Regions from separate parts of the Homo sapiens genome. Here all the other regions are reported to be linked to region 3. Evidence: microRNA targets listed by miRTarBase, many of them from high-throughput screens and not tested one by one. Region 3 holds a microRNA gene; each other region holds the end of a gene's coding sequence.
The links. Region 3 holds the annotated microRNA hsa-miR-4701-3p (AUGGGUGAUGGGUGUGGUGU, at 3,483-3,502, shown strand). A microRNA usually pairs through its seed, bases 2 to 8, with sites in the 3' UTR of a target mRNA and lowers its output. Matches are read on the target gene's strand: a 7mer-m8 pairs with bases 2 to 8, a 7mer-A1 pairs with bases 2 to 7 and ends in A, and an 8mer does both.

Region 1 (6,142 bases), not on the chromosome of region 3:
AGAATTGCTTGAACCTGGGTGGCAGAGGTTGCAGTGAGCCTAGATCGCACCACTGCACTCCAACCTGGGTGACAGAGCAAGACTCTGTCTCAAAAGTCACTAGTGTGCATGAGACACAGAAGCTTTGACAAAAATTCAAACAGCCATGGAGAAATACCGATGGTCTACAGAAGCAGTGCTTAGTCCTTGCTAGAATTCTCTAGTTTTGAAACATGGGAATAAGTAGAACTGCCAATGTGTCTGATGAGTAACTGTGGTATTTATTGCAACTGAGCTCTAGAAAGAGGCTACTGTTGTCTATGATCTGTCCTTTCCCCAACCACCCAGGCATCTCTTTGTCCACTCCAGTGATGTCTGCAGACCACCCTAATGTCACCTCAAGAGGGGTGAACCAACCTTCCACTGGCCAGCATAATAGCCTTGGAGTTTCATCTCAGATTTCATAGTGAATTCGGCTTTCAGGGCAGGATTTAGTTTGGGATGAAAAAGTGTTTCCATTAAGTATTGTATTTGAATCCTGGGTTCTTCAATGATTGAGGAAGACTAATAAAGAAAAGTTTACAAATAATCACATGAACTAAATTAGGACTTCAAAAGTTTAATGAAGTGAAATAATCTCTACTTATCTCTATTTCTTTTCCCAATTTATTCACAATCTATATACATAAAAACTCCTTTGGGTTGTCTACATCAAAAACAAGAATTTCTGTAGTAAGCAAACTATATGCATATTCTTTGTATTAATAAAATATTTTTGTCAATGTAGTGTTTACATTGTTTATATTACAAAGTTTCCAACATTAACTAAATTCTGATAAACTTTCTTCTTGTACTGGAGATACATGATATGCAACATTAAATATTGGTGTCCTAGAGATAAGAGCCACACACCTTGTATGCTGTAGAGTTAAAGGCAAGTACCTAGATCCTCAATCTTCTCATAGCCTCATTACCCCCCAAAAAAGCTGTCATTAGAGCTAGGGAATCTCTCCGGACACAAGGGAATCTGTGGTAACAAAGAATGTAGACCCATGTTGCCAGTCTTGAGTATCTCAGGTGAGGTGCCAGTCCACTTCTGAAACAATGCTTTGCCTCTTATGCCTGTGGAGAAACTATTCCACTTCTTCATTTTTTTCATTTAGAATCATATCATTTCAGTCTTTTTCTTCTTACTTCAATTTTGGTTCTTGTAGCATAGTCTTTTCTGGTAACTACTGTAAAGTTAATGCTGCAAAAGCCTATTTAATCATTCTAATAAAAACCTTAACAGATCCAAAACGATTCTGGGATGTACACAGCGAAGTTAATTCTGCAGCACTGCTCCACACCAAGAATGTATTTTGCCCATTATCTGTCATCTGAGGGATGCCCTCACCTTTGATCTTGACATCAGATTCCAACAGGCAAAGATACATTTTGGTAACAGCTATGTACATATACAAAATATGTATATATTTTGGTAACAGCTACTCCGTTAATACATGTCTTCTAGCATTCCATTCATTTGGATTTATGAGTTCATCAATCCACCTTGTGTCATTAATCTACTTTGTTTAAATTACCCTCCTTAGTACCCATTTTTTTAGCAATGTTCTACTCCAAAACTACTGGTTTGAAATATAGTAGCACATCCTTTCAAAAAGATTTGTTTTTTAGATTCAAAGGGATAGAACAAGATGAAATTTATTTTTTACTCAGAATTTTTCTGAAAAACCACAGGGGTGTTTTACAATGCTTTTTAAGATCGAGATTAAGAAAGGTACTAAGCCAAAGATCATTTATATAATCATTTATATAATTAAATCCAGATTAGTTCAAACAATCGGCATATATTAAATACTCAAAGGGCAGATGGAGCAATCCTTATCTGAAATGCCTGGAACCAGAAGTGTTTTTAGCATTTTCCAGACTTTAGAATACTTGCATTATACTTATCAGTTCAGCATCCCTAATCCAAAAATCAGAAATGCCCTAATGAGCATTCAAATTATGGAGCATTTCTGATTTTAGATTTTTTGATTAGGGATGCTCAACTTGTACTCTATGCTTAGGATTTGCTTCTCTCAACTTTATGAAAAACAAAATGTAGGCCAGGTGTGGTGTAGGCTCACAACTATGATCCCAGCACTTTGGAATGTAGGCTTACACATGTAATCCCAGCACTTTGAGAGGTTGACGCAAGAGGATTGCCTGAAGTCGGCGTTTGAGACCGGACTGGGCAACATAGCAAGGCCCTATCTCTACAAAAACTAAAAAAACTTAGCTGGGCGTGGTATCTGTAGTCCTAGCTACTTGGGAAGCTGAGGTGGGAGGATCACTTGAGCCCTGAAGTTTGAGGTTGCAGTGAGCTGTGATTGCACCACTGCACTCCAGCCTGGGTGACAGAGCAAGACCCTGTCTCTTAAAAGTAGTAATAATTACACTTTATAATAGCCTCCAGCACTTTGTCAGATGTACAATTAAGCAATCTTTCATGCTTTGTTGTTAAAAAAAAAAAAAGACATTTATTCAGTATCATGATCAGATTATTAAAACATTTAGCAATCAACAGCATGGGTACAAAACAAAACAATCTACACTGAAACCCTGTGTTGGAATGCTTTACTTTCCACAGAACAGAAACTATTATACAATTAGTCACAAATACAGTCATCAAGTTCTGTGATCGTGGTGGCTTTGGTGGCAGCCATGGTGGTGGTGATGGATATGGTGGCAGTGGGGATTGCTATAATAGATTTGGTAATGATTGAAGCAATTTTGGAGGTGGTAAAAGCTACAATGATTTTGGCAATGACAACAATCAGTCTTCAAATTTTGGACCCATGAAGGGAGGAAACTTTGGAGGCAGAAGCTCTGGGCCCTATGGTGGTAGAGGCCAATACTTTGCCAAACCACGATACCAAGGTGGCTAAGGCAGTTCCAGTAGCAGTAGTGGTTAAGGCAGTTCCAGTAGCAGTAGTAGCTGTGGCACTGACAGAAGATTTTAATTACTGCCAGGAAACAAAAGCTTAGCGGGAGAGGAAAGCCAGAGAAGTGACAGGGAAGTGACAGGTTAAAACAGATTTGTGAACTTGGCCAAACACAGTGGTGGCAGGGCCTAGCTGGTTCATGCTTTTTTTTCAAGTGAGTTTCCCTTCACACAGTTTCCATTTGAGTCCCTAAGCTCTCAGGGCTACCACTATACTTGATTCATTTTGCATTTCCACTGTGTATCTCCCTCCCAGTTTCTCCTCCTCTTGAAAACATCACTTTTGTGACCTCCGTAAGTTTTCTTCAGCCTTACATTTTTTCAATTTCTTCCAAACTGAGGTGATAACTCTTACAAATTCTTTTTCCTTTCATAAGTAACCATTCCTCATGCATGTATTAGACCTTTAACTGTTAAGAATCTAACATAGTATTTAAAAAGTTAATTTTGAGGTAGCACTAAATTCAAATTACTTTACAATTTGCCATAAATACTGCGTTTTGCTTGACATTAACAGCAGCAATTCCACATTTCAAGAAATTAAGCAGTATTAGTAATACTGCAGGTATCAAAATTTTTTTTTTAAATCTTCAATTACATGTGGGCAGATGAAAACAACTACTAATAGAAATTTAAGGGAAAGATATCCAATTAAGGGAAATGTGTCCTAAAGGAAAAAGTGAATAAAAATTGAGAAAACAATTAAAGAAATGGAAAGAAAAGACCACTTTACGGATTATAAAAGTTATATTTATTCACGATGCTACATTTATTGCATTCCCTTAGAAAAATGGAGAACTGTTTATGTACCCAATCTGCACATATAAAATTTTATACAAATTATGTGTAGCACATAAAGGCCTCTGGTACAGCTAAAATCCTGACACTATAATTTGGGTATTCCTGCTTTAGGGTCTCCAGTTTATCAGGTCTGTCCATAGAAAACAGAAACTGGAATTATAGTCAGTCTTGCTAACACTTAGAAACTACTTTAAAATACAATAAAATTTTCATTTACCCTAAAAGTCCAAATGGGAGGGGATATATTTTGTTACCAATTTCAATGTAACAGTATGACAAATTCACACCTCATTTTGGCTGGGCTTTCAAAATTAAAAAAAAAAAATCACCTTAGTTCTGACATTATCTAAGTTGTGGCTGCTTCAGAAGGTCATATGACAAAATATTTACCAAATAATTAAAAATAATAATAATAATATTCCTTTTACAAAATGGTACAGTAATACCTTAAGGAACCGGAAAATACTAAATGTCTTTGGCTATACAACTAAAAGGCCATTCTTTCAAAAGAATAGGGCATATTCATTTCAGAATCAACTAAAAAAAACAGAAAGCATAACAGAAATATGCATAGAATTTAAGTATACTTTGTCTTGCCTTCTTTTCCCATTCTACCCACATAAGCAAGGAGAATGCAATTTATATAATCTTTCCAGATGAGACTCAATAGCACTACAAAGAAAATACCCAAATTTCTGCAAAGGCAAAGTGAATTAAAATAATTACACAACTAGGTGAAGACTGAAAGGGACAAATGTTATTTGCAATTTTCTTTTTAACTTGTTTTTAAGCCTTACAAGTGTAGAAATTATAGCTAATAAACAAAAAGTCACAATCTTCACAAATGGAACTACAATAGAAAAATAAATCAAATGAAACACTTAGTAATAAATGAAGCCTATTTTATTACTTCAAGTGTTAATGATAAAAAAATTTCAGCACAGCTGTTGCATTTAAAAAAGTGAAACTACATACTATGTTTCTAGCTCAGTAAACAGATGAACCTGATGTCTTTAAATGACATAACAATTGAGCATTGTACAGTACATCTTATGAAGACCCGTAAATTAAAGAACTACTGGTTTAAAGTTAGTGATTATGAAACAAAAACATATTCATAGTTTCAGCTTCTTTTTTCTTCCTCGACCATCAGGTGCGCCATCCATTTTACGTTTCTGTGTCTACAAACAGACAGAAGGATTACTTTTCACAAGACTAATATAAACATGAAATATAGTTGCAGACACATTATAACACTTTAGTAATAACAACTACTACAAAGTAATAGGTATGAGACTTTTCCCCCAGGCTATATAAATCTTTCAAAGCAAACTATAAAGCCTCCAAATAATCTTACCTACTTATTTTACTTACAGAATAAAAAATGTTAATGTTAATAATGACGTTATAAAACTAATGCACAATTAACAGTAGTAGATCAATATCAAATAAATGCAAGCTTCCCAAAATAGTAAGAAACACTTGAGTTTTTAAAAGGCAGTTACATAAGTACCAAATATTATCCAGAGATACTCATTTATTCATGACTTTATAAATTAACCATTTTTTATTAAATTAACTATTATTAAATAACATTTTTTCCCTTTAAGTGTTTGCCTTCACATTGCTAAAACATCACTGAAATAATCAAAGCTTAGAGACTAACAGTAAAAGTCATAATACCACTGCTTTTCCAATGTTTCTTAAATTATTCTAAAATTATAACTTGTATTCTCAATGAGATGTGTACACACTTGACATTTACGAGACATACTTTCCTGATTTTCACGAAGCCCCATATTAAGGACTACCATATCATCAAGAAGTGATTTTTCCCACACAACCCAGTCAAGCTAAATTTGTACTTTTTAAGTATTTCAAGGAAGTCCTAGCTACAGCAATCAGACGAGAGAAAGAAAGAAAGGACATCTAAATCGGAAACAAAGAAGTCAAATTGCCCTATTTGTAAATGACATAATCTTACATTTGGAAAAACCTAAAGACTCCATCAAAAAACTATTAGAACTCATAAACAAATTCAGTGACACTGCAGGATACAAAATCAACATACAACAAACAGTAGCATTTCTATGCCAACAGTGAAGAATGTGAAAAATAAAAAGTAATCCCATTTACAGTAATTACACGTGAAATAAAATACCCAGGAATTAATCAAAGAAGCGAAAGATCTCTAAGATAAACTATAAAACACTGATGTAAGAAACTGAAGACACAAAAAAATAGATATTCCATGTTCATGGATTAGCAAATTCAATATTGTTAAAATGTCCATACTACCCAAAGCAATCCACAGATTCAATGCAATCCTTATCAAAATACCCATGACATTCTTCACTGAAATAGAAAAAAAAA
Region 2 (6,142 bases), not on the chromosome of region 3:
TCATTTGGTTACTGCCTTCACCCGTGCTAAACAGGGTATTCATGAAATTGAGGAAATAGGCCCAATTTCATGGATGAACACTTCTTTCCTAATTTCAGCTGCCTGTCTTGCAGATATTTGCATTCTAATTCACAAAGGTAATGAAATTTGTAATGAATGCATAGTGTTCCATTTTATTCTTATACATAATTCATTTAACAGTTCCTCTGGTCAAGAAATTTAGTTTATGTTTATTTTTTCCATTCTATAGAGGAAGCCCAGTAATAAACATTCTGATGTCTATTTGTGCATATCTGTTTCCTTCAGGAAATAGGTTTCATTCTTAGGAATAGTATCCAGGTGTGGTGGCATGCATGTATAGTCCCAGCTATGAGGGAGGATGAGGTGGGAGGATTGCTTGAGCCCTTAGAAATACAATCTTTAGGCCAGGTTTGGTGGCTTAGACCTGTAATGCCAGCACTTTGGGAGGCTGAGATGGGAAGATTGCCTGAGCCCAGGAGTTCAAGACCAGCTTGGGCAACATGGCGAGACCCAGTCTGTACAAAAAAAAATATTTTTTTTACTTAGCTGGGCATGGTGGTACATGCCTGTGGTGTCAGCTACTTAGAAGGCTAAGGTAGGAAGATCACCTGGGTCTGGGAGGTCAAGGCTGCAGTGAGCCGAGATCGTGCCACTGCACTCCAGCCTGGGTGACAGAATAAGACCCTGTCTCAATAAATAAATAAAATTTCTAGATGAAAGAATACACAATGTTCTAGAGCTTTTAATAAGTTTGCCAAATTATCCTCCAGAAATACTATACCAATTTACACTAGCATGTTCTACAGTTTGTTTTTCCAAATTCTTACCATATTTTTTTTTCTTACCAATTCGATAGATGGAAAAATCAAATTTTAGTGTAGAAATTTTTATCTTTTTTCTTTGTTGGTGGAGTTAGCTATTTGCATAGGCTTATTAGCCATTTGTATTTCTCTTACGATTATGGCTAGTTTTTTTGTCTTTCAATTTCCAAGGTTTTTATTCCATTAGGGTAAATTTCCCTAAAGGGAATTGAATTCCTGGTAAGAGCTAACAATTATCAAGTCCTCACCGTGTGTTACTCCCTACGCTGAATGCTTTACAGGTATCTTCATTTTCAGGAGCTGCATACCAATGCCCCTTAGTCCACTGGTGTTTCTGTTGCCAAAATTGCTACAGCAGAATATAGTTAATATGGTTGTTTTGGGTCATCTGTTATTCCGTGTGCAATTTAATAATCCTTGTGGGCATTAATACAGGGTGAAAATCACAAACCATTGTGAAATAAGTAGGTTAGTAACTGCACATAAGACCAGTTTGGCTTTCTAGGGGAAGCGTATTTCCAAGGGAAGGAAAGGCTGATTTCTCTTTGTATAGACTGTGATTTCCAATGTTTTTCTCTTTCTTCCTGCCAAACCTTGCAGGCAATACAGTACGGTACTGAGGATAACAGTACTGCAGTAGTAGTGCCTTTTGGTGCCTGGGGAAAATATAAGAACTCTGAAATCAACTTCTCATTCAGCAGAAGCTTTGCCTCCAGTGGACGATGGGCCTGATTACCAGCTGGGACTTAGAGTTTCTGTGCAACAGTTTTTCACTGAGCATGTCAAGAAACTGATAAGATCAAAAAGGTCTCCTAACTCACTAGATCAGCGCACAAGTCAGTGTAAACCACTTAGATAGTAGTTTTTTCATAAATGCTCATCATATTTATGTTCCGCTGTACATGTTCAGTATAAATATATGTGTAGTGAAGCTACTGTGAGTCTTTAAATGGAAAGAGCAAATGAGAAGTGGTTTGGATACACTTGATGAGAGATGAGAGTGTCACATTAATAATTTTTAAGACTCTTAGGCAGCTATGGGTTTCTTTTGATCATTTTTGTTCTTTATTCATTTGAACACGTTTTTGAAGTTCTTCAAAACTAGTCAGTTTGAATTTTGACAGCTATTCAATATGTGATCTCCAAGTTTAAAAAAATTTTTTTCCAGACTTCCCTAATCCTAAAATGCGAGTTTTTATTTTTAATAACTGTACCAAGGAATAAGTATGAAAACAGTTCTCTGTTACCATATTTTGTATTCTGGACCACTTACTGGTGAAAGCAACCATGCAAAAGAAATTAATTTGGCCAGGCACAGTGGCTCATGCCTGTAATCCCAGCACTTTGAGAGGCCAAGGTGGGTAGATCATCTGAGGTCAGGAATTCAAGACCAGCCTGGCCAACATGGTGAAACCCTGTCTCTAGTAAAAATCCAAAAAAAAAAAAAAAAAAAAAAAAAAAATTGGCTGGGCGTGGTGGCAGACACCTGTAATCCCAGCTACTCGGGAGGCTGAGGAAAGAGGAATCACTTGAACCCAGGAGATGGGGGTTGCAGTGAGCTGAGATCATGCCATTGCACTCCAGCCTGGGCAGCAAGAGCGAAAAACTCCATCTCAAAAAAAAAAAAAAAAAGAAAGAAAAGAAATTAATTCAGATGATGTGACATTACTAAATTGTATACATATTTATAAATGTGTATTTCAGCTGTCTCATCAGCCCTCCCCTCCATTTATTCCTATTTTTCTGTAGTTAAGAATACTGTAAAAATGTGACTATTCCTTAATATCAGAAAAGAATGCACAGGCTGAGTCTTCCGGTCAAAAGTTAAATACTGATGGAATCAAGTATTTTGTATGAAGTTCTCATTTGTTATCTCTAACGCTATTTTGTGTTTTGCATATAGTATTATAGTATGTGTATATCACTTTTTGTATAGAGTAAGCAATTGAATAATTTGTTAATAAAAATAATACCACATTGACTGATACTGCTATAGACATAGCTTGAGTTTTATGTCTCCTTTTTGCTCATTTTCTAAGACTTAGGAGAAAGAATAAATCTAAAATGACCATTAAAACATTCTCCATTTCAGCTTGCTGTGTAACTTAGGAAGTATAAAACTATACTTCTCTTTATCTGCATGTAAGTTTGCTGTTAAAATGTGAATTTCTAAATGTGTATTTGGAATTATTTCCGTAGTTTATTTCTGCAAACTATGTAAATTTGTTATATGTGTGAGTATGTGTACATATGTATATTTTAGAGTAATATAAAATTAAAGGGAACAATCTTGCATAGCTCTTTCACCAGTTTTAAATTATTGATACGTTATTTTTAAGGACTCTTGACAAACTAGGGGCAATTTTCTTATAGTGGAGACCCAGTGATTATCAGCAGATGAGGAAATAGGTTAAAAATTGCTATATGGCAATTTGTATATAAAGTAATAGGATGTGAGAAAAATACTGAATCTTAAGAATGACATGGAATTCTGTGGCAGAAACAAAAGAAAAAGTTGATGTAGTATATACCTTCAACTGTGTTTTGAGTTGACTTTTTTTTTTTTCTTTAAGCTTTGGGTAAAAATGTATGAGGAGGGAGAGGGCCCAATATAAATATTTACATCTTCTTACCTTTTTGGAAATGGAAGAAGATAAATCTTGAGTTTTTCTGCCTATATTAATCAGGAATTGCCCTTTGAAAAAAGTGCTAAATAAATATTTTGATTTTTTTTTTCAAGGGAAGTTAGGTGAAAGAAGGAAAAACATCACAGGAAAGACTGTTAACATTCTGTTTGTTGTCTGAGAGGTGAGGAACCAAAGGGAGGCAACTAAAGCGGGAAACCATCTTGCTTTTTCTAATCAGTTCTTGGAACAGAAATGTGGAAGCTACCTTTAGGAACATGGAGAATTTCCAAACCAACAGGCAAAGGAAAACTAACGCACAAAAATGACATTCTGAAGATGCAGGTTTCAGCCAGGCGCGGTGGCTCAAGCCTGTAATCCTAGCACTTTGGGAGGCCAAGGCAGGTGGATCACCTGAGGTCAAGAGTTAGAGACCAGCCTGGCCAACATGGTGAAACCTCATCTTGACCAAAAAATGCAAAAATTAGCCAGGCGTGGTGGTGGGTGCCTGTAATCCCAGCTACTGGGGAGGCTGAGGAAGGAGAATTGCTTGAACCTGGGAGGCGGAGGTTGCAGTGAGTCGAGATCGCGCCATTGCACTCCAGCCTGGACAGCAGAGCAAAAACTCCATCTCAGATAAATAAATAAACAAATATGCAGGTTTCATTTTTGTTTTGAATGCTTTACATTACTATTCCTATCTTTTACTTTAAAAACTAAGATGAGGAGTGATGTTGTCAAGTTCAAAGGCATGAGGGTGATTGATGGATTGAGGTAGATAGCCAAGTTTGTCTGTTTTTGTTTTTTATAGTTACAGAGTCTCACTTTGTTGTCCAGGCTGAAGTGCAGTGGTGCAATCATAGCTCACTGAGATTGCCAGGTTCGACAAAGAGGAATTTATAGGATGGGGATATAGGGTAGACTTGACTCTGCTTTATCCGGGAAAGCTTTTAAAACTCTGAGCCAGTTAACTTTGAGTAAGCATAAAACATACTGTATTGGTGTTTGTATTTTTCATGCCACAATATTAAAATGGAATTTTAAATGTAGATTATTATAATCTATAAAAGATAAGTATGCATGTATTAGGATACTGGAAAATATGCAAATCATAGTAAAAAAAAAGGGACTGCTCTAGTTTTTCAGTTATAACTGAATTTGCCATGTGGGTATAGGCATAGTGTAAATTACATTAATGTAGTAAAACATCAATTGTGGTTCGGTTTGTCTTTCATTTATGTGTAGTATAGAAATCACCTTTCTAATATGTGTTGCCAAACTATTTGCCACCATCTATTTGGTGAAATATTCATTGTCATTGTGATTTTCCACAAGTATAAGTTCTTAAGTACTTTATAGATTCAGAAGTAAATGCTGTCCTGTTCTCCATCAGCTGTTCGTTTGTTACAGATTTTGTATTTCTTTTTTTTTTTTTTTGAGATGGAGTCTCACTCTGTCACACAGGCTGGAGTACAGTGGTGCGGTCTCGGCTCCCTGCAACCTCTGCCTCCCGGGTTCAAACGATTCTTCTGCCTCAGCCTCCTGAGTAGCTGGGACTACAGGCGCGTGCCACCACCCCTGGCTAATTTTTGTATTTTTTTTTCTTTTTTTTTTTTGAGAAGGAGTCTCTCTCTGTCACCCAGGCTGGAGTGCAGTGGCACGATCTCGGCTCACTGCAAGCTGCGCCTCCTGGGTTCACGCCATTCTCCTGCCTCAGCCTCCCGAGTAGCTGGAATTACAGGCGTCCGCCACCGTGCCCGGCTAATTTTTTTGTATTTTTAGTAGAGATGGGGTTTTGCCATATTGGCCAGGCTGGTCTCGAACTCCTGACCTCAAGTGATCCACCCACCTCGGCCTCCCAAAGTGCTGGGATTACAGGCATGAGCCACCGCACCTGGCCAGATCTTTGTATGTCTTAAGTGTTTCAAAGTTATAAGCATTTTTCTGGGGGGATGTCCATTTTGGAGGGATCCATTTTGATCCTTTGTACTCTATAATGTGAACTTTCCCCTGTTCCAACACTTAAAAGAGAATTATTAGCACATAATCTAAAAGATGGAATTTTTTTTTTTTCTTGAGACAGAGTCTCGCTCTGTCGCCAGGCTGGAGTGCAGTGGCGCGATCTTGGCTCACTGCAACCTCTGCCTCCTGGGTTTAAGCGATTCTCCTGCCTCAGCCTCTGGAGTAGCTGGGACTACTCGTGCATGCCACCACGCCCGGCTAATTTTTGTATTTTTAGTAGAGACAGGGTTTCACCATATTGGCCAGGATGGTCTCGATCTCTTGACCTCGTGATCCACCTGCCTCGGCCTCCCAAATTGCTGGGATTACAGCACTGTGCCCTCCTAGGAAATTATTTTTTAAGTGAAATTTTATTTTTATTTTTTTTAGGATTTTGGTAGAGAATGAGTAGGCCTACTCATCAATATCAAACAGGACATTTAGTTTCTTTCCTTAGAACAGACATAAATTTAATTTCATGGTAATATGATAATAAGAAAATGCTTCTATTTTTCTTTAGCACCTCCATGGTTCTCATATACCCATGTCTGTAAAAAGTGACATGAGAATTTTGTTGGGTTACATTTTATTGTATTTATTAGATTCGCTTATATAGATGACTTAGGCAGAAATAAAGTCATGTCTTTAGAAGGTGAACAAGCCAACTTGTGATGG
Region 3 (6,142 bases):
CAACTGGTGAAACCATGTCTCCTGCCCTCAGCCGGGGCACCCAAGATGCCCTGAACCCTGAGGATGAGGTGGATGAGTTCCTGAGCCGTGCCATCGATGCCCGCAGCATTGATCAGCTGCGGAAGGACCATGTGCGCCGGTTTCTGCTCACCTTCCAGAGAGAGGATCTTGAGAAGAAGGTTTGAGGGATACAGGGCAGAAGGACAAGGGCTGGGGGAGGGGCAGGTCGCAGCAGGGAAGGCTGAGCACAGGTGAGGGCACAGGTGTTTCTGGGGGATGGAGAAGGGACCACAGAGCAGGGTGAGGATTTCATCAGTTGAGCCAACTGCATCTCCTCCCTGTTGAGACCCCTGGTAGTGCCCTGTCCTTGCTGTCCCTGCCTTCCTTAGGGAGGGCCCAGCACTCAGCTCAGCCTCCTCTCCCTCAGTACTCCCGGAAGGTGGATCCCCGCTTCGGAGCCTACGTTGCCTGTGCCCTGTTGGTCTTCTGCTTCATCTGCTTCATCCAGCTTCTCATCTTCCCACAGTGAGAGCCCTGCCTTTCCTCTCTTAGCTTCTCTCTTCACCACTTCCCAGAAGCTTCCTAAATACCCACACAAGCCCACAATCCCTGGAGCCTGCATCCCTGCTTGTTCCAGAGGGTGGGACAAGAATGCCCAGATCTTCCAGAATTAAATGATTTTTCTGGCCCTGTTCTGCCCCAGCTCCACCCTGATGCTTGGGATCTATGCCAGCATCTTCCTGCTGCTGCTAATCACCGTGCTGATCTGTGCTGTGTACTCCTGTGGTTCTGTACGTAAGGGGATTTCTGAGGCTGTTGGGGAGGGCAGGCTGGACTCCAGACAGGGAGGAGGTCACATGGGGAGAGGGAGAAGGCCATGCCTCTTCCACTGGGCCCCATCCCTGGTTGCCATTCCTCCTTGGCTGATACAACCTTCAACTCTTGGTCTCTTGATGCCTCTAGCTGTTCCCTAAGGCCCTGCAACGTCTGTCCCGCAGCATTGTCCGCTCACGGGCACATAGCACCGCAGTTGGCATCTTTTCCGTCCTGCTTGTGTTTACTTCTGCCATTGCCAACATGGTAAGGGTCCAGTGGGAATTCTCCCACCTCTGCTCTGTGCCAAGCACTGTCCTGGACACTGGGAGTACAGCGGAGAAAAGGACATATTTTCTGCCCTCAGGGAGCCCCCTCCCAGAATAGGGGAAGGTTAACTCCGGTTCTCCTTCCTTGTTCTCCCAACCTCTTGTCATCCCTGAGTGAGTACTAAGGCCCATGGGGTATAAGGTACCTGGGCATAGCCCAGGTTAGGGTACATGGCTTCACCAGGTACCTTGCAACCCTTTCCCTCCTTGGTTACCCTGATATACCCCTCCACTTTTGCAGTTCACCTGTAACCACACCCCCATACGGAGCTGTGCAGCCCGGATGCTGAATTTAACACCTGCTGACATCACTGCCTGCCACCTGCAGCAGCTCAATTACTCTCTGGGCCTGGATGCTCCCCTGTGTGAGGGCACCATGCCCACCTGCAGCTTTCCTGAGGTGTTCGAGCAGTGCTCAGGCGGTGGGGGGGCTGTCCTGGCACAGACATTGGCCCTTCTGTGCCAGGCCTGGTGATGGGCGCTGGGGACCCAGGAACTCACCAGAGTCTCCCACACTAGGAGCAACCAGGGGCCCTGGTGTGTTGTAGGGGCTGGGCATGGAAGGTGGAGGATATGGGGGTTTGAGGGGTGTGGTGGGAAGGTTAGGTCAGGCAGGAGAGTGCAGGGCTCTCCCTGCCCAAGGGTGCTGTGGCCTCTGCCTTCACCCAACGCTGCCTCTGCCACCCCCGCAGTACTTCATCGGGAACATGCTGCTGAGTCTCTTGGCCAGCTCTGTCTTCCTGCACATCAGCAGCATCGGGAAGTTGGCCATGATCTTTGTCTTGGGGCTCATCTATTTGGTGCTGCTTCTGCTGGGTCCCCCAGCCACCATCTTTGACAACTATGACCTACTGCTTGGCGTCCATGGCTTGTGAGTTTATTCTCAGGTCCTTTAATACCCCAGGAGCTTCCCTCACCTTTCTAGGTCACTGTGAGCCTCTCTGGTGCCCATGCCCCTTGTGCCTTGGAATGCCACAACACCCCTGTGGGGGAAAGGGAGGAGATGGAGGAGCTCCCAGCATGTGACCCCAAATAGTTACCCCCAAGGAAACCCTAGTCCTGGGAAATCCTTGTGTCTTTAGGCTAGACATTAAAAAAAAAAATTCCCTCTTACATTTGCATGGTGCTTTCACATCCACCATCTTAACCACCTATAGGACATACAGCTGCTTGGTGGCAGGGCTCTGGTTAGGAACCAAAGCTTCTGATTCCTGCTTGGGGGCTTTGCCTGGGACACCACACTGGCTTTTCCTCTGCAAAACCCCATTCCTTTGATATGTGGCCATAGCTTGTTGTAGTAGAAAAAGCCTCTGGTCTCTGCTGGGTTTGAATCCCTGCTCTGCTGCTCATTAGCTGTGTGACTTTAGACAGGTGAGTTAGCTTCTCTGAGCCTCAATTTCTTCATCTGTAAAATGGCAATGTCACCTAAATCACAGGGTAGTTGTAAAGATTATAGTAACTAACATTTATGGAAGGCTGACTATATGGCAGGCACTGTGCTAAGCCTTTTACATACATTATTTAGATCTGATCCCTGTTGTACTGATGAGGAAGGAGGCTTAGAGAGTTAAGCGACTTGTCTCAGGTCACATAGCTGGTAAGTAGAGGAGTCTCTAAGAGCAGAGGTTTTCTTAACCTCTACTCTTAATGAGTTAATTAATGTAAGTAAAAGCCCTGGCCCAATGCCTGACTTACAGTATGTGCTCAGTAAATGCAGTCTCTTGTCTCCCCTTCCATGTGCCCACCCAGCAATCCAGGAAGCACTGATGACTTTGTCTCTTCTATCTTCTTACCAGGGCTTCTTCCAATGAGACCTTTGATGGGCTGGACTGGTAAGTGAGGGCTCCGAGGCAGCAAAGGGTAGAGCCATTAGATGCCTCCTTCAGACACCAAGCATGTCTCTGCTTATCCTTAGTCCAGCTGCAGGGAGGGTGGCCCTCAAATATATGACCCCTGTGATTCTGCTGGTGTTTGCGCTGGCGCTGTATCTGCATGCTCAGCAGGTGGAGTCGACTGCCCGCCTAGACTTCCTCTGGAAACTACAGGTGACTGTGTGGGCCTTTGGGGGAAGAGGAGGAACCTAGGGGCGGAGCCTGGGCCAGGCCAGAAATGTATCTTGTGCTAGCTGGCTAAGGCTCAGGCCACACCTAGGCCCACCCTGGTTCCATTCCTTCTCTGTGCCCATCCCTTACTCCCTGCCCCATCCTCTACCTGCCCCCTTTACCCCTTTGCCTGTTCTTTAGGCCTCATCTGTCTGGGCCTTTCTTTCTCTATGTGATTCCCTCTTATCCGCACTTCCAAGCCTTGGCCACCACACCTACCCCTTGTGAATGTCGGGCAATGGGTGATGGGTGTGGTGTCCACAGGCAACAGGGGAGAAGGAGGAGATGGAGGAGCTACAGGCATACAACCGGAGGCTGCTGCATAACATTCTGCCCAAGGACGTGGCGGCCCACTTCCTGGCCCGGGAGCGCCGCAATGATGAACTCTACTATCAGTCGTGTGAGTGTGTGGCTGTTATGTTTGCCTCCATTGCCAACTTCTCTGAGTTCTATGTGGAGCTGGAGGCAAACAATGAGGGTGTCGAGTGCCTGCGGCTGCTCAACGAGATCATCGCTGACTTTGATGAGGTACTTTTCCAGTTGGCTGGTGGTGGCAGAGAGTGGGGGGTACTTGGAGACCAGGGATTGGAATGGGTGAGTGGAACTGGGAAGAGAGAGAGAGATTTGATGGGACCCAGAGTCATCAGGGGTAAGGGTATGCACAGTGGAGGCAGAGGCAAGAACCCATGAAGGTGTCAGAGGCAGCAAGGGGGTCAGCCCTAGTGGGGCAGGGTCATCACTGTTGGGGAGCAGGGGAGGACTTGATCTGTAGGGGGATAGGATAGGTACCAGGTGGATGTCACTGAAGAAGAAGGCAATAGTCTGTGGACAGAACCTCATGAGACCAACCAAGCAAGATGGTCCTCTGAATAGAGAAAATTGAAGCAAAATGTGAGGTAGTGTCCTGAACATCCAGATCAGGAATGGGCTGTTCACTGTTCTGGAGGGAAGTCACTTGCTCACTCTGGGACTCAGTATCCCAAAAGGTAAGGATTGGAGAAATTGCTTAATATTGCACTTGTGGGTCTGTGTTCTGTGAGTGAGCTACTGGAGGGACCTTCTGAAGCTGTATGCCCAAGTCCTGCCTGGAGTCCTAGGCTGCCTGTTTTCCCAGCTCCTCAGTCTTACACTGATAGCAGCAGCTGGAAGGGGGCTCTTGAGACAGGGAAGTGGGGAAGGCAGCCAAGGCGTGGCAAGAAATGAGTGTTGGGGCAGGGCTGGGTCTGGGGTCTTTGCCTTGACAGCCAGGTCTCCTTGTGTTGTTCAGATTATCAGCGAGGAGCGGTTCCGGCAGCTGGAAAAGATCAAGACGATTGGTAGCACCTACATGGCTGCCTCAGGGCTGAACGCCAGCACCTACGATCAGGTGGGCCGCTCCCACATCACTGCCCTGGCTGACTACGCCATGCGGCTCATGGAGCAGATGAAGCACATCAATGAGCACTCCTTCAACAATTTCCAGATGAAGATTGGTAAGAGGGCTTTGTTGCTTGGCGGGTTTTCCCAGGACTTTTTCCAGGTGAAGCTGGGATTATAGGCTGGGGATGGGATCACAGATTTCCCATCAGGGCTCCTGTGGGGTTTTCTTCCCTCTGACCTCCTATATCAAGTCTGATATTAAGAACAGAGATCATTAGGCACTGTCCTATAAATTTTTGAGCATATTTTAATCCTGATACTATTATCGCCTTTCATTGGATAGAGACTGACTCTCAGAGAGATTAAATAACTTGCCCAAGGTCAAACAACTAGTAAGTGGCAGAGCTGGGATTAAAAATCAGGTTTATATAAACTTGAATACTTCTGTCCTTATCTGTGACCAGTCCAATAAGAGGTATTTCCTCTCAAATGAACTGGTGGATGGGAGTGGTTAATAGCATGGCTACTAGAGATGGACTATTTGGTTTGAATTCTGGCTGCTCCATTTACTGGCTTATTTGAGAAGTCTTCTAACTTCTCTAAGCTTCAGTTACCTTATCTATAAAATGGGGATAATAATACCTACCTTTTAGAGGTGTTGAAAGGATGAAGCCATGCCGGGCGCGGTGGATCATGCCTGTAATCCCAGCACTTTGGGAAGCCGAGGTGGGCAGATCATGAGGTCGGGAGTTCAAGACCAGCCTGACCAACATAGTGAAACCCCTTTTCTACTGAAAAAAAAAAAAAAAAAAAAATTAGGCCGGGCGCAGTGGCTCACGCCTGTAATCCCAGCACTTTGGGAGTCCGAGGCAGGCGGATCACGAGGTCAAGAGATCAAGACCATCCTGACTAACACGGTGAAATTCCGTCTCTACTAAAAATACAAAAAATTAGCCGGGTGTGGTGGTGGGCGCCTATAGTCCCAGCTACTCGGGAGGCTGAGGCAGGAGAATGGTGTGAACCCGGGAGGCGGAGCTTGCAGTGAGCCGAGATGGTGCCACTGCACTCCAGCCTGGGTGACAGAGCGAGACTCTGTCCCCCCCAAAAAAAAAAAAAAAACAAAAATTAGTTGGGTGTGGTGGTACATGTCTGTAATCCCAGCTACTCGGGAGGCTGAGGCAGGAGAATCTCTTGAACCTGGGAGGCAGAGGTTGCAGTGAGCTGAGATTGTGCCACTGCACTCCATCCTGGGCAACAGAGCAAGACTCCATCTCAAAAAAAAAAAAAAAGAAAAGAAAGGATGAAGCCAGGTAAAATGCTTACTAGAGTGGTTGACATGGAATAGGCATTCAGGAGATTACTGTTATAGCATGGCTGTCTTGACTCAGGGGAGCTCCTAAACTGAGGTGCTCAGGTCTTTGGGTATTTTTATTTGTTTTTTGGGTTTTTTTTTTTTTTTTTTTTTGAGATGGGGATTTGCTCTGTACCAGGCTAGAGTGCCGTGGCACAATCACAGCTCACTGTAGCCTCAAATCCCAG
Region 4 (6,142 bases), not on the chromosome of region 3:
CAAGACCTTGTCTCAAAAAAAATTCTCCTCTCTAACTTCTGTCTTTCTAAACATGGAAGATGTATTTGAACATCTAGAGAGGAGCTGTTATAAAATAAAACACTTTAAAAATTAATTGCTCAGACCCAAGTATACATTATCCATTTTCTTTTTTCGAGATGGAGTTTCGCTCTTGTTGCCCAGGCTGGAGTGCAGTGGGGCAATCTTGGCTCACCGCAACCTCTGCCTCCCAGGTTCAAGCAATTCTCCTGCCTCAGCCTCCCGAGTAGCTGGGATTACAGGCATGCGTCCCCACACCTGGCTAATTTTGTATTTTTAGTAGAGTTTCTCCATGTTGGTCAGGCTGGTCTTGAACTCCTGACCTCAGGTGATCCATCCACCTCAACCTCCCAAAGTGCTGGGATTACAGACGTGAGCCACCGCATCCAGCCTCCATTTTCTTATTTAAGACTTACTGACTTGTCTAAGATCTCTTCCTGCTAAGTTATTTCAATGATATCTTCTTATAGGATTCTTATGGGAATTTTAGTAGTTTCATTGCAGATCAATAATGGGACCACGTTTTGGGGGAGTGAAGGGTGGGGAGCTGGGAATAAGACTATACATAATCAGAATTTTTGATTTTGCAGATTGCTCTAGAGACATGTTCTGATTTCAGTTGAGCTATTTCAGTTCCATATTTTTGAAGCTGATCCTTCGTTTCAGCCAAAATAGTAGATACAAATCAATGACGTTGTTAAACCTTTTTCTGAATTATTTTATTGCTTTGTAATTTACAAGATTCTTGACATTAGTGGTAGTGTTCACATTTAAGCTGTTATAACAGCCTTCTAATGGTAGACTTTTCTAAGTTTTATTAATTGAAAATGCCCACAAAATGATTATTTTACTGATTCACTTGTAATTCCCCCTTCCTTTGACAGGATATCTATAGAGAAATGGGGTTTGGTCACTATGAAGAAGAAGAAAGCTGTTGGGAGAAACAAAAGAGTGAAAAGAGAGACCGAACTCAGAACCGAAGTCGTAGCCGATCTCGAGAGAGGGATGGCCATTATAGTAATAGTCATAAATCAAAATACCAAACAGATCTTTATGAAAGAGAAAGGAGTAAAAAGAGAGACCGAAGCAGAAGTCCAAAGAAGTCCAAAGATAAAGAAAAATCTAAGTATAGATGAAAGATGAAGAGGCAGAATTGAGAGGCTAACATATTTACTCTTGTCTAACTTAAGAGTGCCAGGAAAGCAGATGCTTAGATTTTGTGTCAAAGCTTGTTATTTTTTTCATACTAGGATTATGGTCTTTAGATTAATACTGATTATATAGAGCACGGAAAGATAAAGAATTGAACATTTTCTTTGTATACTTTTTTACACTAATTTTATTGTTATACATAAATGGTAGTCTTCATTTTTGAAGTCTTACATTTTCACTCTTTTTTTAATGAAGTATTTCATACTACAAAAATACATAAACGTATATATAAAGGGATAATAAATGTAAATATCTGTGTACTCATCAGCCAGCTTAAGATACAGATGTTGTCGACATTTTAGAAGTTCCCTAAGGCCCTCTCCCTCTCAAATAATTATTTGGAATTTTGTGTTTGTCATTTGTCTATTATAGTTTTACAACATACGTATGTATCTGTAAGTGAAATGTTAATTTTGTATGTTTCTGAATTTTATATAAATGGCAAAATGTTTACTTCTGTGACTTTCTTTCATTTTTATTGCTATATAGTATTATATAAATATACTACAACTTATTCATTCTTGATGGACATTTGAGTTTTGTTTATTTGTTTTTGCTGTTGAAACAATGCTGCTGTGAACATTGTATCTAGCAGTTATATTGCTTGATATATTGATAAAATAATGCCAAATTTGTGTTCTGAAGTGACTGTACTAGTTTATACCTCTCTTGGCACTGTGAGTTACCTTTGTTTCATAGCATCTCCAACACTTAAGTTCAGACTTAAAAATTTGCCAACCTAGTGGATGTTAAGTGGTATCTACCTGTGATTTCCAGCAAGATTACTGTTATCTCTGCTCTTCCATGTGTAAGATGTCATTTTTTTCCTGGCTGCTTTTAAGGTTTTCTGTCACTGGTTGTAAGAAGTTTGATTATGATGTGCTTGCTGTAGTTTTTTTTTCACGTTTCTGCTGCTGCAGCTATTTTACCTGTGGGTTTATGGTTTTCATAGAATTTGGAAATTGGGGGGCATTTTTTCTTCTGTTATGGTTTTCTCTCTGCTCCTCTCATGCTTCTCCTGGGGCTCTGATGACTTGGATGTACGTTAGGCCCCTCAGAATTTTCTCCCAGTGTGCTGATTCTGTGCAGCTTTTTAAAAAGCCTTTTTCTCTCTGTGTTTCATGTTGGGTACTTTCCAGTGCTGTGTCCTCATTGTTTATTAATCTTTCTGTCTAAAGTATCTAATTTCCTTTTAATCGTATCCAGGTATTTTTCACCTCCGACATATTTTTAGTCTTTAGAATTTCTGTCTGGGTCTTTATCTCCCATGTGTCTCCTTCACATGCTCATGCCTTCCTCTATTTTTTTTTTTTTCAACATCTGGAGTGTATTGATAATAGCTCTTTCAGTGTGCTTGCCCATTCTGTCATCTGCATCATTTCTGGTCTGTTTCTATTGATTGATTCCCACCCTACCCCAACCCCCACCCTGCCCATATTGGATTGTAACTTCCTTCATTACATGCCTGGTAATTTCTGTTTTTAATATTGGGTGCTGGAGTTCTTTTAAGTATCTTGAACTCTGTTTGGGGACATAAAGTTACTTGGAAACAATCCGATCATTTTATAGCTTGCTTTTAAGCTTAATAAGACAGGACTGGGACAGCCTTTAGTTTAGGGCTAATTTGACCCACTACGAAGGTAATACCGTTCTGAATAATCTTCCTGGTTACACGGTTTCTGCATTCTGTCTGTTGGGAACATGAAATATTCTGAACCCTATTGAGCTCCCAGTTGTATCTCCTGTTCCTTACCTCACATGCATACACTGCTTGGTGTTTAGCTGAAGACTTAAGGGAAACCCAATATTCTGCCCTGCAAATCTTACCTTGGCTCCCCTAAATTCTCTACCCAGGGAGGTTCCCTTCCCTAGCCTTAGTGCCACAGCTTAGAAACCCCATGTAGAAGCTTGCGCAATTATAGGGCTTTCTTTGTTTTCCATCTCTCAGGAGTCACTGTCCTGCACTGGCTTTTGTCTAACATCTGAAAAACTTCCTTGTATACATTTTATATAGGTTTTAATTTAAGGTGGAGAAGGTAAATCGTGCCTCTGCTACTCCATTTTGACTAGAGTGGAAGTTAACTTTGTATTTCCTAAATGTTAATGAGGCTGAGCATCTTTTCCCATGTTTATTATTCATTCCTTATTGCTCTCTGAAAAGCTTGTTTCATGTCTTTTGCCCATTTATATAGTAGTAGATTGTTGTCTTTTTATACTTAATAGATTGTGGATACTAAGAATAAGTTAAGGAGTGCTGTCTCTCTCTCCTTCCCTCTGTCTGTTCTCTTGGAAGAAAAGAAAAACATTTAAATTAATCTGTTCCTTAAAAGCTGGATAGAGCTTGCCTATAAAATTGTCTGAACTTTGCATTTTTTTGTGAGAAAATTTCTTAACTATTGATTAGGTTTCAAAAATTATAGAATTATTAGCCTTTCTATTTCTTTAATGTTAGTCATTTTTATTACATTTTTCTGGGAATTTGTTTTCATTGACGTTTTTATTTTTTGATAGCATTGCGCATAGTTTAGCTAGATTTTTCTATCCTGCTTTGTTGATGAATGTCCTTATGTTTTAGTGTGTCTCATAAACAGCATATAGCTAGATGATGATGATGATGATTATTATTACTATTTTGAGACGGAGTCTCACTCTGTCACCCAGGCTGGAGTGCAGTGGCGCAATCTCAGCTTACTGCAACCTCCACCTCCTGGGTTCAAGCGATTCTACTGCCTCAGCCTCCTGAGTAGCTGGGACTACAGGTGCTTGCCACCAGGCCTGGCTAATTTTTTTTTCTTTTTTTTAGTAACAGGGTTTTCACCATATTGGCCAGGCTGGTCTGGAACTCCTGACCTTCTGATCTGCCCACCTCAGCCTCCCAAAGTGCTGGGGTTACAGGTATGAGCCACTGCACCCGGCCAATTATTTTTAAATCTAATCTGAACTTTAACTGGTTAGTTGAGTGCATTTTTATGTGTACTGATGTATTTGCATTTATTCCTTACCACCTTATTTTGTGCTTTTTATGTTTTTTTCTTCCACTCTTTTTTTTTCTTTTGGAATCAAAAATGTTTTTTAATTCCACCCTCACCCCTCTGCCCCCTCTTCTTTGTTTTGGGGGAATTTCCTTGGAATATTACATCCGTACTTAAAAAGTATAATGTTATATCTTTATCTTCCTCTCTAATTGAGAGTCTTGGAACTCTCCAAGTCACCCCTCTTGCAACTTTCGTGTTAAAATCATTCAGTATTTTAGTTATAGCTTGTGATTTTTCACCTTAAAATTAGACCTTGAGCTGGACTCAGTGGTGCACACCTGTAGTTCTGGCTCCTGAATGGCTGAGGCCGGAGGATCCCTTGAGGCCAGGAGTTAGAGGCTGCAGTGCACTGCGATTGTGCCTGTGACTAGCCTCTGTACTCCAGCCTGGGCAACATAGTGAGACACCATCTGTTAGAAAAAAAATTAGACCTTGTGATTATTACTGTTTTTGTACAGATAATTGTTGGTTTAGATTTACTTTATATGTTAGAAGTGTTTGTTTATTCATTATTATTCTCACATCTCAGACCTTTCACCTAGGATAATTTTCCTTCTTTCTGAAGCACATCTTTTGATGTTCCTCTAGTGACATCTGTTGATGGCAAACTCTTAGTTTACATTTATCAAAAGTATTTTCAATTCATTCTATAAAGTTGATTTTATATGTACATAATTCTAAGTTGAGGTGTGTCTTTTTTTCCCCCAGTACTTTGAAGAATTAGTCTACTATCTTTTTACTTTTGTTACTACTGGGGAGAAATCTTTTGTCATTCCAAATGTCATTCTTTTGGATATAATGTGACTTTTCTTTCTGATTGCTTTTTTGCTGTGGTTAAACTTTCAATTTTGAAATCAGTTGTAGATTGGCATGCAATCATAAGAAATAATACAGAGAGAACCTGTGTACCCTTTGCCTAGTTTCTTCCAGTGATACCATCTTGTAAGATTCTAGTATGGTATCACAACCAAGATGCTGACATGGACACAGTGGAGATACAGAAAATTTCCATCACTACAAGGACCCCTCTTGCTGTCCTTTTATAGCCACGTCTACTTCCCTGCCACTTCTGTTTTCTCCTTCACCTCTGTCAACCACTGATATGTTCTCCATTCCTATAATTATGTCATTTCAAGGATTTTATATAAGTGGAATTCTGTATTATGTAGCCTTTTGGGGAGCCACTCATAATCCGGAAATACATAATCCCAAATGCCATGATCATGAAGGTTGAAACCCTGATAATCATAATCCCAAATATGTAATTCTGGAAAGAATAATTTTAAAAACCTTTAAAAGATATTTATTTACATTTTGTTTGTTTGTTTGTTTTGAGATGGAGTCTTACTCTGTTGCCCAGGCTGTAGTGCAGTGGCACAGTCTCAGCTCACTGCAACATCTACCTCCCAGGTTCGAGTGATTCTCCTGCCTCAGCCTCCCAAGTAGCTGGGACTACAGGTGTGCGCCACCATGCCCGGCTAATTTTTGTATTTTTAGTAGAGATGGGGTTTCACCATGTTGGCCAGGCTGGTCTCAAACCCCTGACTTCAGGTTATTAACTTTTTTTTTTTTTTTTTTTTTTTTGAGATGGAGTCTTGCTCTGTCACCCAGGCTGGAGTGCAGTGGCACGATCTTGGCTCACTGCAAGCTCTGCCTCCCGGGTTCACGCCATTCTCCTGCCTCAGCCTCCCGAGTAGCTGGGACTACAGGCACCCGCCACCATGCCCAGCTAATTTTTTTTGTATTTTTAGTAGAGACGGGGTTTCACTGTGTTAGCCAGGATGGTCTCGATCTCCTGACCTCGTGATCTGCCTGCTTCAGCCTCCCAAAGTGCTGGGATTACAGGCATGAGCCAC

Region 1: miRTarBase lists SMARCA5 as a target of hsa-miR-4701-3p. Seed matches in the 3' UTR shown: 7mer-m8 at 2,376-2,382.
Region 2: the mRNA of PPM1K is a reported target of hsa-miR-4701-3p. Seed matches in the 3' UTR shown: 7mer-m8 at 5,102-5,108.
Region 4: the mRNA of PPIL4 is a reported target of hsa-miR-4701-3p. The part of its 3' UTR that is shown has no 7-base or 8-base seed match.

Annotation. Positions count from the first base shown.
Region 1 is chr4:143,551,927-143,558,068 of GRCh38, reverse strand. SMARCA5 (SNF2 related chromatin remodeling ATPase 5) reads right to left here. Exons shown (of 24, transcript NM_003601.4): 24 at 583-4,950. The coding sequence ends at 4,885. Among named protein-coding and RNA genes, the nearest start is that of SMARCA5-AS1, 40 kb to the right of the region's middle.
Region 2 is chr4:88,258,027-88,264,168 of GRCh38, reverse strand. It overlaps PPM1K (protein phosphatase, Mg2+/Mn2+ dependent 1K), which reads left to right. Exons shown (of 7, transcript NM_152542.5): 7 at 1,443-6,142. The coding sequence ends at 1,574. Among named protein-coding and RNA genes, the nearest start is that of PPM1K, 23 kb to the left of the region's middle.
Region 3 is chr12:48,769,340-48,775,481 of GRCh38, reverse strand. MIR4701 (microRNA 4701) reads left to right here and starts at 3,445; the gene lies at 3,445-3,507. ADCY6 (adenylate cyclase 6) reads left to right here. Exons shown (of 22, transcript NM_015270.5): 11 at 32-179; 12 at 428-525; 13 at 704-791; 14 at 964-1,080; 15 at 1,384-1,542; 16 at 1,835-2,013; 17 at 2,939-2,974; 18 at 3,058-3,187; 19 at 3,509-3,772; 20 at 4,512-4,716. It also overlaps a transcript of SPMIP11 not described here.
Region 4 is chr6:149,500,486-149,506,627 of GRCh38, reverse strand. It overlaps PPIL4 (peptidylprolyl isomerase like 4), which reads left to right. Exons shown (of 13, transcript NM_139126.4): 13 at 924-2,133. The coding sequence ends at 1,175. Among named protein-coding and RNA genes, the nearest start is that of ZC3H12D, 19 kb to the right of the region's middle.